Linked DNA regions of Homo sapiens. The protein of the gene in region 3 purifies or fractionates together with the protein of the main gene of each other region. This does not show direct contact. Each region holds a gene or a part of one and is shown on either strand. Other genes may lie near its edges.

The links.
Region 1: the proteins of CEMP1 (region 3) and PLXNC1 purify together in Homo sapiens (affinity purification with mass spectrometry; one large-scale study listed by BioGRID and IntAct). This does not show direct contact.
Region 2: the proteins of CEMP1 (region 3) and PABPN1L purify together in Homo sapiens (affinity purification with mass spectrometry; one large-scale study listed by BioGRID and IntAct). This does not show direct contact.

Annotation. Positions count from the first base shown.
Region 1 is NC_000012.12:94,154,995-94,158,639, reverse strand, and holds part of PLXNC1 (plexin-C1 precursor), read right to left. Parts: intron 1-3,645.
Region 2 is NC_000016.10:88,863,750-88,868,091, reverse strand, and holds the start of PABPN1L (embryonic polyadenylate-binding protein 2), read left to right. Parts: upstream 1-1,431; 5' UTR 1,432-1,485; coding exon 1,486-1,740; intron 1,741-2,150; coding exon 2,151-2,286; intron 2,287-2,461; coding exon 2,462-2,529; intron 2,530-2,963; coding exon 2,964-3,070; intron 3,071-3,151; coding exon 3,152-3,239; intron 3,240-3,712; coding exon 3,713-3,855; intron 3,856-4,296; coding exon 4,297-4,336; coding exon of another isoform or gene 4,337-4,342. UniProt on the Homo sapiens protein: Binds the poly(A) tail of mRNA.
Region 3 is NC_000016.10:2,529,535-2,532,821, forward strand, and holds CEMP1 (cementoblastoma-derived protein 1), read right to left. Parts: upstream 1,875-3,287; 5' UTR 1,540-1,874; coding exon 796-1,539; coding exon of another isoform or gene 723-795; 3' UTR 501-722; downstream 1-500. Other genes in the region: AMDHD2 (N-acetylglucosamine-6-phosphate deacetylase), read left to right, coding at 723-1,225. UniProt on the Homo sapiens protein: May play a role in development of the periodontium which surrounds and supports the teeth by promoting the differentiation of multi-potent cells from the periodontal ligament into cementoblasts to form the cementum.

The DNA.
Region 1 (3,645 bases), on a different chromosome or scaffold from region 3:
ATTTTTGTAGAGATGGGGTCTTGCTACGTTGCCCAGGCTAGTCTTAAAACTCCTGGGCTCAAGTGATCCACCCGTCTTGGCCACCCAAGGTGCTGGGATTATGGGCATGCGCCATCTGCTCCCTGCCTAATGATAATTTTCTAACCTTTTTCTCATAGGGAGCTTCCGATTGATAATTTATTTTAAAGGCAAGGTTTGGAAAGTCTAGAGGACCAACCATCAGGATAAAATCCAACCACCTTTGCCCGTCTCATTAAGCCCTTCACCATCTGGACCTGCACACTCGTTTCTGGACATTCCGCAGCCTGGTGAGCTGCTTGTGGCTCCCAGGCTTACTCAACTTCCTGCTTGTGCACAAGCTGTGCCTTCTCTCTAGAACTCCCTTCTCTGCCTTCTCCACTCAGCTTCAAGATGCAGCTCAAGCATTACCTCTCTGAAGCCTCCCAGATCCTCCCAGGCTGAGAGTAGTGCCTCTTTTTGGGACTTCCACGGCAGCTTTTGGTCACGTCTCTCTTGCCATGAGCATCAGACTGTATGGGAAAGGTTTGTTTTACTCTCATTCTTTCTATAATAGCAGGAGTCAACAAACCACCACCTGTGGGCCAAATCTGGCTTGTTGCCTGTTTTTCAAACGGCCCATGAGCTAAGAATAGCTTTTGCATTTTAAAATGGTTGAAAAGAATCAAAAAAAGAATAACTCATGACAAGTGAAAATTACAGGGAATTCACATTTCGGTGTCCATAACATTTTAATGGAACACAGCCCTACCTGCTCATTTATGTATTGTCCATGGCTGTGTTCACACTACAGCAGCAGAATTGAGCAGTTGTGATAGAGACTGTATGCAGCCTGCAAAGCCGAAAATATTGATGATCTGGCCCTTTACAGAAAGAGTTTGCTGACCCCTGCATAACAGCATTGACCAGGGTGGTGGGATGGAAATAGGGCCACATCCCCCTAGTAACTTCTCTAAGGAAAGCACTATGTGTAGCTATTGAACAGACAATCCAACCAACATGAAAATCAGCTACTGAAACTGAAAAATGAATGTCACAGTTCTATTTGTTTTTGTGATCATGTAAAAATTAGCATTTCATCAAGATAGAAAATTAAAACTAAGAAAAATGATAAGCACATTTCATAAAAAACATAATAAGAAAACCTACCATTCCATGGCCCCACTTTGATGAACAGGTTAGACCCATGCTGGCCACACACTGTTCCCAAGTCGACTTTGGGGTTTCCCAGTCTTCATCATCTGTGTGCCAATGCATGTTTGGGGAAGGGAGTGGTCATCAAAAAACTTTAAGGGAGGCAGATTTGACACTACTGTATGCTACTGTAATCAAGATGTTGGTCTTGGTGTGGCTCTTCCGCCATCCTGTTCTAAGGGAATCCACCTGCAGCACCTGCTGGGGACAATTGCATGTTTGATCCTCTTCTAGTCGGACCAGGGGCCAGCACCTGCCCCAAGGGTTACAAATCCCTACACTGAACTCGGGCTCATCATCTGGTGGGAAAGATGAACTGGACTCAACTCTATCTCTCTCCTGGCAACTTGGACTAAATAATACAGAAAGTCATTGCCAGTTAGTAGCCAAAGCCGAAGGTGACAGGCTGTTAAGATGTACAGTGGGAGGCAAGTGTGCTGGCTTATGCCTATAATCTTAGCACTTCGGAAGGACTGCTTTAGCTCAGGAGATTGAGACCAGCATGGGCAACATAGCAAGACCTCATCTTTACCAAAAATAAAAATAAAAAAAATCAGCCTGGCATGGTGGTGTGTGCCTGTAGTCCCAGCTACTTGGGAAGCTGAGGTGGGAGGATCACTTGAACCCAAGAGTTTGAGGCCGCAATAAGCTATGATCATGCCACTGCACTCCAGTCTAGGTGACAGGGTGAGACTCTGTTTAAAAAAAAAAAAAAAAAAGAAAGAAAGTTTCCAGTGTCTCTCCTCCAGGAACCATATTGTTTAAGAAATGATTTTATTCCAATTAGCTGGGCGTGATAGCACCCGCCTGTGGTCCCAGCTACTCAGGAGGCTGAGGCAGGAGAATCGCTTGAATCCAGGAGGAGGTAGTTGCAGTGAGCCGAGATTGTGCCACTGCACTCTAGCCTGGGCAACAGAATGAGACCCTGTTTCAAGAAAAAAAAAAAAAAAGATAGACAGTGGGGATCAAGGCAGGCCTGAGGCATACTCAGGTGGGAGGGAGTAGATGTTTGAGGAAGCAGAGGAGGTTATTTGGTAGGAGGATGGTGCAAAGCAGCCAGGCTAAGTCATGTTAACAGGGAGACTAAGGAAGGAGCATCCATCATTTGCTGATGCTGACTGAGCTCCTTTAAGCTGCCTTGAATGTGGAACCACCTTCCAACTGCATATCAAGGAGCCCGTCCTAACACTATTAGTAGTAATGATGGTGATGATAGTAAACACAGACATAACATTTACTATGAGTTAAGTAGTTAGTAGTATTCATTCTATACTTATTAACTCGTGAATCCAGACAATAATCCTATGAAACCAAGAGGATCACTATTTATAGATAAGAAACTGAGGCACAGAAAGGTTGAATAATTTGTCTACAGTCCCACAACTGGTAACTGGTAGCTTTGGTCCCAATTGACCTGGTTCCAGTGACTGTGCACATAACCATAACACAGCATTGCTTTTATTCCTAGATTACCATGTAATTCCATGTGTTTCTGTCCACAATATCCCTCATCCCTTTATCTGACCTTACTCAAGTAGATCTTTATTCCATGCAACCAACTGTACATGACTAGGATAGAAATTGGTAACAGGACTGATGTTGTAAAGAATGGACCCTTGGAGAGAATGTCTGGTGTGCGGAATTGGTTCTGGCGTACAGCACAATAGACGACTCTAGACATCCCCCCACATCTGGGAGTGAAATACAAATAAACTGTTATATGCAAGAGTGAAGGAGCTAATTAAACTATGGCTTACAGGTTTTTGAGACTCAGACTCTAAGCCCAAAAATGGCAAGTCTTTAAAGGGCTTTCTAGGTACTGCCTTTGATCAGTGAGGAGGGAATAAGGAATATCAGGTGGTAAAATGTGTTGGTTACTTTTTATGGCCCTAAGTAAAATGCAAGGGGAAAAAAAATGCGACAAGTTCCTATCCTAGGTGCCTCAGTTGGAACACAAGGAAAATTGTTTTATCTTACAATAGTGGTTCTTAAACCTAAGCATGACTTCAAATCACGTTGAGAGCTTGCTAAAATACAGATTGCCAGTCCCACCCCAACCTCCAGAGCTTCTGATTTAGTAAGTCTGGTGTAGGGTCCAAGAATGTGCATTTCTAGCAAGTTCCCAGGTGATATTCATGCTGCTGGGCCACAGTCCACACTTTAAGGACCACTGCCTACAGCATAAAGCCCTTTCCTCTCATAGTTGAAAGGCAATCAAAAATTACACCATAGAAGTTCCAACCATGCTAGGTTTCCATGGTCAAAAGTAACTCTCAGATTGGCAACACCAGAAGCCTGGTATTCCAATGAATGGAAGTACCTGGGAAGAGGTGAAGGAGTAAAGGACACCATGTAACCTAAAACTAAGGAAGGAAGGGGCCCTGACACATCAGGCATTAAGAAAAAGACAATGATTAAGGGAGTATGAGGTGA
Region 2 (4,342 bases), about 86 Mb from region 3:
AAGATGGAGGAAGGGCCGCCCTGCGTGGGTGGTGCATGGTGCAGCAGTGCAGCTCCAGCCTAGGCCACGCCCTGTCTCTCTCTCCTCCCCCAGTCCCAAATTCCCAGGAATCCCAGCCCCACTGGCTAAACACCGGGGTGCAGTCACAGAGAGGATGGCCTCGGCCTGGGGGTAGGAGCTGTGCAGGGGGCCCCGTCTCCCACCACCAATGGCAGGGGTAAGAGCCATGCATGACCCCCTGGCCCCGAGTCCTTCACAGAGTGGGTGGGAGACGGCAGCACTGGAGATGAAGGCCAGAGCAGACTCCAGCAGCCGCGGTGGCAGGTGCAGAGGGAGGCGCAAGGGCGGACACGGGTCACCTCCTGCTGCAACCCTGCATGGGTGAAGCCAGGTGCAGACACCACCGGATGCCCACTGAATTCCGCCACAGTAACTCACGCCGTCACTCCCCACGGAGACCCCGCCCCACAATAACTCACGCCGTCACTCCCCACGGAGCCCCCGCCCCACAGCAGAATAATTCTGGCCTCATGGAAGTGGCTCCCACCTAAAAGATGACCCAGACCAGGTGCGGTGCTCACGCCTGTAATCCCAGCACTTCGGGAGGCCGAGTCGGGCGGATCACCTGAGGTCAGGAGTTCGAGACCAGCCTGGGCAACATGGTGAAACCCTGTCTCTACTAAAAAGACAAAAAAAATTAGCTGGGCATGGTGGCAGGTGCCTGTAATCCCAGCTACTCAGGAGGCTGAGGCAGGAGAATCACCCGAACCTGGGAGGCAAAGGTTGCCGTGAGCCGAGATCGCGCCACCGCACTCCAGACTTGGCAACAAAGCAAGACTCCTGCCTAAAAAAAAAAGAAAAAAAAAAAAAAGGCCCAGAATAAGGGTTAGGGAGGCAAGGGTCCCTGGGGACTCCATGGGGGTCAGGATGCAGAGACAGCTGTTGCTGCCCCTCCTCTGGGCCCAGGACCCCGCCCCAACCTGCCTCGGCCCTCTCATCCCATGCACCTGCTCTCGGTCTCTGCTCAGGCCCTGCCTCTCCTGGTCGGAAGCCACCTCTCCAGCCTGCTTGGTCCCTGGTACTAGAAGAAACCACTCCCGTGTTCCCACTTAGATCGAGTGTTCATGCAGTGTGGCGTTCGTGCCGTGTGGATGCTGCTGAGGTGTGAACCCTGTCACAGACCAAGGCTCCAGTGAGCCACAGCGTGGCCAGGCGGAAGCAGAAGAGACCGGTGACCCCCACTCAACTCAGCCTCTCCTTCCTCCAGGGAGAGTGTCCTGGAGGTACCTGTCCGAGTGACAGGGAAGGGGCGGGGCCGGGAGCCAAGGCTGGAAGCTCAGCCCCACTCAGCCTTTGCAAATGCTCTAGTGGGAGCAGCTGGCCTCAGGGGAGGGCTTAAAACTCCAGGAGAGCCTGGGCAGGTGCGGACGCGAGGGGAGTGGAGGGGAGGCCTCGCCTGGCCCACCTTCCTCCTGCCCCTCTACCATGTGGCCCTTCCCGAGCCGCTCTCTCTTCCCACCCCCGACTCAGGCCTGGCTCCAGACGGTCTCCTCAGACCCTGAGGCCCAGGGCTGGGGGGCCTGGAACGAGACCAAGGAGATTCTGGGGCCAGAGGGTGGGGAAGGGAAGGAGGAGAAAGAGGAGGAAGAGGATGCAGAGGAAGACCAGGATGGGGATGCAGGCTTTCTGCTGTCTCTGCTGGAGCAAGAGAACCTGGCTGAGTGCCCATTGCCTGACCAGGTAACAGCTGTGTGGAGGCCCTGGGGATCTCAGGGGACCTGGGGCACAGGGGCTGGTGGAGACACGGGGTCTGGGTGACGGATGGCTGCAGCTGACTTAGGAGGGGAGAGGGCCATTGCCCACCTGCCTGGACGAAGGTGGCAAGGAGACCCCCCGCCCCCAGCCACACAGACTGCAGGGTCAAGGTGGCCTCTCTCGCCTGGGGAAGGGCCCTTGAGGTGCGGTTTCGGGGGCTTCTCTGCAGGGGCGAGTTCATCCCCAGCCAGCTGCCCCAGGAAGGAGTGTCCCTGTCCAGAGAAGGGCTGCCCCTTGGGGCTGTGACCCTCTGCTGGAGCTGGCAGGCCACACACCCACCTTCCTTGAGCAGAGCCTGCAGGCTGCCTGCCCGGCTCAGGGCCGTGTGTCGGCAGGAGCTGGAGGCCATCAAGATGAAGGTGTGTGCCATGGAGCAGGCCGAGGGGACGCCACGGCCTCCAGGAGTGCAGCAACAGGCCGAGGAAGAGGAGGGCACCGCGGCCGGGCAGCTGCTGAGCCCTGAGACCGTGGGTAGGAACCAAGGGCACAGGCCGCCCCCCACTGAGCAAGGGTCCCACAGTTTCCATTAAGGTTGGGCCTGGCAGGCTCCAAGGTGTCACCTCCCCTATAAGCCTGGGCGACCTTCCCCGTGAGAGGAGTGAGGAAGGAACCAAGGGCCTGCGGGCCTGAGCTGTGTTCTCCGCAGGCTGCCCCCTCTCTGGGACCCCCGAGGAGAAGGTGGAGGCTGACCACAGATCCGTCTACGTGGGCAACGTGAGTGGTGGGCGGGGTGAAGGGGCAGGCAGCGAATGGGGCCCCATCTCTACCAGAGGGTCTGGCGCCCGGCCATGGGCCAGGCAGCCTTGCTGGGAAGGGGGTCTGACCCTGGGGGCAGCCCCGTCACCTTGAGGAAACACTGGCCTGGGCACATATTCCAGTTTTTCAACATGAGCTGGAATTCGGGGTTGCACATGAAATCTCCACTTTTGAGAAGCTTTTTAAAAGGCTCCAGCTCTCCAGAAGGAAGCGCTCCATACGAGATATCCTTTCCTCTCTTCCCTCCAACCCCAGCGGGGGTGTGGGGTGGAGGCCTGGGGCCATCCCCGCCACGGGGCCCAGCCTTGGGGTTTCTTTCCTCACCTCTAACAAGAAGGCCCCGAGTCAGGGCCAGGCGTCTCCCTCACATGCTGGTCTGGGCCTGGGTGCAGGTGGACTACGGGGGCTCCGCCGAGGAGCTGGAGGCCCACTTCAGCCGCTGTGGGGAGGTCCACCGAGTCACGATCCTGTGTGACAAGTTCTCTGGACACCCCAAGGGGTCAGTGTGGGGCCTGGTGGGGGCACTGGCCATGCGGACAGGGCCCAGCCTCACCCCTCCCCTCCCTGCCCCTCCCCTCAGTTATGCCTACATAGAGTTTGCCACCAAGGGCTCCGTGCAGGCCGCCGTGGAGCTGGACCAGAGCCTCTTCCGGGGCCGGGTCATCAAGGTGCGCCGGTGCTCCCCAGGTCCAGGAACATGAGCGCAGAGGGGCTGGCCCACTGGCCCTGGGACACACAGCAGCCCCAGCTGGCTCCTCTCTGCACAGCGTGTCTCAGGCACGGTGCTTGGCTGGGCCTGGACAGGATGTGGCGGGACCCTCGGACCTGAAGCTGGGTTTGGTCTGCCAGTGGCATGGTGGGGAAGTGTCCCCTCTCGGGCGGGAGCCCCCTCTGCAGGGGTGCTGGCCGTGACCCCCCCCTCTGCAGGGGTGCTGGCCGTGACCCCCCCCTCTGCAGGGGTGCTGGCCGTGACGGGGTGTCATATGACAGCTATGGTAGGCAAAGGCAGGGAACCCTGTAGGCCCGAATGGTATCCTGAGCCGGGCAGGACCCCATGCTCCGGGGTGGTGGGGGCTGCGGGGGCTGTGAGCTGGGTCTCGGCTGCTCCTTGAGGAGGACTCAAAACAGGCCTTTGCTCCAGGTGCTGCCGAAAAGAACCAACTTCCCTGGGATCAGCTCCACAGACCGCGGGGGCCTTCGAGGACACCCAGGCTCCAGGGGGGCACCCTTCCCCCACAGCGGCCTCCAGGGCAGGCCCCGGCTCAGACCACAAGGGCAGAACCGGTGAGTGGGTGCCTGTGGGGGCAGCCTGGGGGCGAGGGCCATGGTGGAGGGCATCAGGGGCAGGAGGGGGTCCCTGAGCTCGTTCCTCATGGGGCTGCAGGAATGTACCTGGCGGGGCCTGGGTGAGGGCTGTGGCTGCTGCATCAGCTGGTGGGGGGGGCGCTTTTTGTAGCCTCTCTGCTGGGAGAGGTGACCCCTTCTTGTTCCCACAAAGGCCCCAGGGTGGGCTACAGCTGCCCCAAGGGGCTCTCCTGGCACTGCCTTTCCTTTTCGTGGGACCCTCCCAAGAGAGCAGCTGGGAGTCACCAGAAAGGCCCCTGGGGCATTGCCTGAGCAGCCAGGTGACCTCCCTGCATCCTTATCCTGTTGTCCCCCGGGGCCCTGGGCCACCACCCCTTCTCCTCTGGAAGGCCACTCAGTGTGTGTTCTCTCTCCGTGCAGGGCCCGTGGAAAATTCTCACCATGGTTTTCACCGTATTAAAGGGAA
Region 3 (3,287 bases):
TGTGGCAGGCGGACGCAGCTAGGCAGTGACAAGGACCTCGGCTGAGAGGACACCTGGCCGCAGCGGGATGCCATCAGGGCCGGGTGGTTGGGGAGCTGGTCTCCAGGGAGTGAGTCGGGAGCCCTGCTGGATTGATGCCCAGGGCCTGTGCGGCCGCCCTGGAGGCGGTGGCTGGGATAAACGTGCACCCAGCAGGACTCGCCTTGGCTCCGGGTTTTGCTTGTGCTCACATGTGGCACCATCCTTGGTTGCCCTCCTGGAGAAGGCATTCACGGCCTGGGGTGGGATGGCTGGGCTGTAGTTTAGCCTGGGCCTTGGGCCCCAGTGGGGGACAGGGCCTGTCTGCATGAAGTGGACCGGAGACCTGCAGACCCCAGGAAAGTGTCACTATGGGAGGGAGGGGCAGGCAGTCAGTGGCTGGTGCCATGGGGTGAAGCCACCATGGGCTGGGGGTGAAGAGCCGGCAGGAAGGGGACCAGTCACAGGGAGTGTGGACAGTCAGGGGTTTGCTTTCTGCTCCTGAGTTGGGGTGTGCAGCGTGGAGCCCACAGCCTGGTTCTGGGCCAGGGCACAGTGCCAGGGGCTCCGCTCTGACCTCCAGGAGGGAGACTGGGCCCGGGACCCCTGTTTTCTGCTCCCTGGACTGCCTAGCCCTGAGTGCCACGGATGACCAGCGTTCTGTTTTCTCTTCTCAATAACCCTATCTCTTCACACATCCCCAGGCCCAGTGCTTGCCGGCTGTGGTGACCCTGCCTGGTGCTGGAGGGCAGTATGGGAGGCACCAGTGTGCCCTGCTCACCCCATTAGTGTCATCCTGCCATCTTCTGTGTCCCCTTGGCCCTGGCACACACCCATGTGGCAAACACGGGCCGTGAGGCTCCCTGAACAGCTTCGAGGCGGGTGGGCTTCTGGAGCCCTCTTGGCTCTGAGGACAGCCACAGTGGGGTCAGACGTCAGGGATTGGTGCAGCCCCACGTCAGGGGTGATTGTCTTGACTTTCTCTCCATTTGAGTTCTGGGGTGGGTGGCTCCCTTCCCCCTTGCTTACAGGTGCTGTCCTGGGCACAGGAGGTACGCGCCTGGCTCTGCCACTGTTCTCTTCCCTCTGCTGCAAAGCCCAGTTAAGGAAATGTCTCCAGGTCCAAAGAGATAGGATGGTCTGGGCCCCACCTGTTGGAAGGGAACAGCCAGGGAAGAACCACCTGCCTGGGCAGGGCCTCGCCTGAGGGAGGGCCTGGGGCAGGGCACAAGGGGTTGATCTCAGCCCACAAGCCCCAGGGGCAGCCCAGGAAAGCAGGCGACGGATGTGGATCCTGACCTCCTGAGAGGTGTGAGGTGCAGGGATACCCACCTCTGCCTTGACGGCCGCGCACCCCTTAGGAAGTGGCTGTCCAGCGCCTGCCTGTGCTGGGCCTGGGAGAGGAGCTGTCTTGCCAGGGCTCCCAGGCAGGGAGAGGCAGGTGAGGTTCTCAGCCGATGTGTTAGAGGTTGAGCATCGCCTGTGCCCAGCTTGCTGGCTGTCAGTGCTTGATGTGCCCATCCTCAGCTAAAACCCAGAGCTGGCATGTTGGTCATCCCCACCTCAGACGGGACGCCCAGTCCAGAGCTGGTGAGCCCTGGGCCAGCCTTTGGGCCTGGCCTGCCCCATTCACCGGCCAGCGCCCCACCTCCCTGGCTGGAGGGTCGGGGAGGGGCTGGCAGAGATGGTTGGTCCACAGGGCTAGCCCTGGGTGGTGGGAGAGGGGCCCAGGGTCAGGGTGAGAGAGAGCTGGGCCAGGGAGCTGCTGCAGGATGATTTTGAGGTGTGGGGGAAGCACTCTTGGTTGGTTTTGGTTTGCTTTTTAAAAATTGTGGTAAAATACATAACAAAAGTAACTATCGTAACCTGAGCAGTTCTGTGACATGAAGTGAATTCACTGCTTTGTGTGACCTTGGCCACCATCATTCCCCACCACTCACTCCCGCTGGGCTCCCAGCCCTGCCCCACCATTCCGCTCCCTCTACAGCTATGGGTTTTACAAAGAAGGATGCAGGGCGCCCTGACTGCGGGGTGAGGGGCAGGCCTGCCCGCGGTGTGGGCATTCGCTGAAGGGGGACGCCCAGGTGTCTGCCTGAGTTACGGGTTGGGGGGTCGGGCATGTGGGGAGGGATGGAGTTGGAGGTGCATGCTCTCAGAGCTGGTAGGGGTGGCCCGTTTCGTCCCGTGTGTGAACTGGAGATGAGACCCGGCGCCTGCGATCCCGCAGACCGCGCCCGGCCGGGTGTCACTTGTGGGCGCACGCTGCCGGGATGCTGGGCCGAGCCCGCGGTTTAAGACCCAGATCTCAGCCAGGTCCCTTTCGCCGTCCGAGCCTCTGCACCTCGTGGGCTCCGAGCACATCCAGGCCAGAGACTGCGTTTGGGGCGTGGGCACGGGAGACCGTCATCAGCCAGGACGCTCTCGACCGATCCGGCCGCGCCCCGCCCAGCCTCGTAGCGCAGGCGCTGAGTCCAGGCTGACGCGCAACTCTGGGAGCGTTGCGGCACGCGGGGCCTTGCCTACTGTGGGAGGGGCTTCTGGGGGCGGGCTTCTGTCGGGCCAATTAGGATCGCCGCAGGGAAGGCACGCGCCGCGGCTGAGCAACAGGGGCGCGCGTCACCTTCTCTAGTTAACCCGCGCGGCCCCGGGCACAGAGCCCGAGGCTGCGCGGTCCCCGGCGGGCCCGCGGACCCCCCCCATCTCTGCGCCCCCCACATCTCTGCGGACCCCGCCTCGCCCCAGCCCTCCCATCCACAACCCTCACAACCTTGCATACCCCGCTACGCTCCCCACCGCGCCCTCACATTCCTGCAGACCCCGTCTCCCCACAACGCTCCCCGCCAACGCTGCGGAGCTCCGCGTCGCCCCAGCGCTCCCTGCCAAGCCCCCCACACCCCTGTAGACCCCGCCTCGCCCCAACCCTCCGAGCTGCTCCCCTTATACCCTTGCGGACCTAGTTTGTTTCGTCCCAGTCCTCCCCGTCGCGTCTCCCACATCCCTGCGGACCTCCCCGCGCCTCGCCTCTCCCTTCTGTTACGTATCACGCACAGGTGGATCCCACTACGACCCAGCTTGGCTCCTGTCCCGCACCTCCGCACCTGGCCTCTAGCCCCGCCCTCACTGTCTTGGGAAATGAAGCGGAGGGGTGGGCCGGACACTCTAGAAGCACCCTGGCTCGGAGCTTCCCTAGCTCGGAGTTGGTTTGGAGCCCAGGCTAGGGACCCAGGGTGGGCGCAGCAGGGGAGATTGGCACCAGAAGCGTGGAGGAA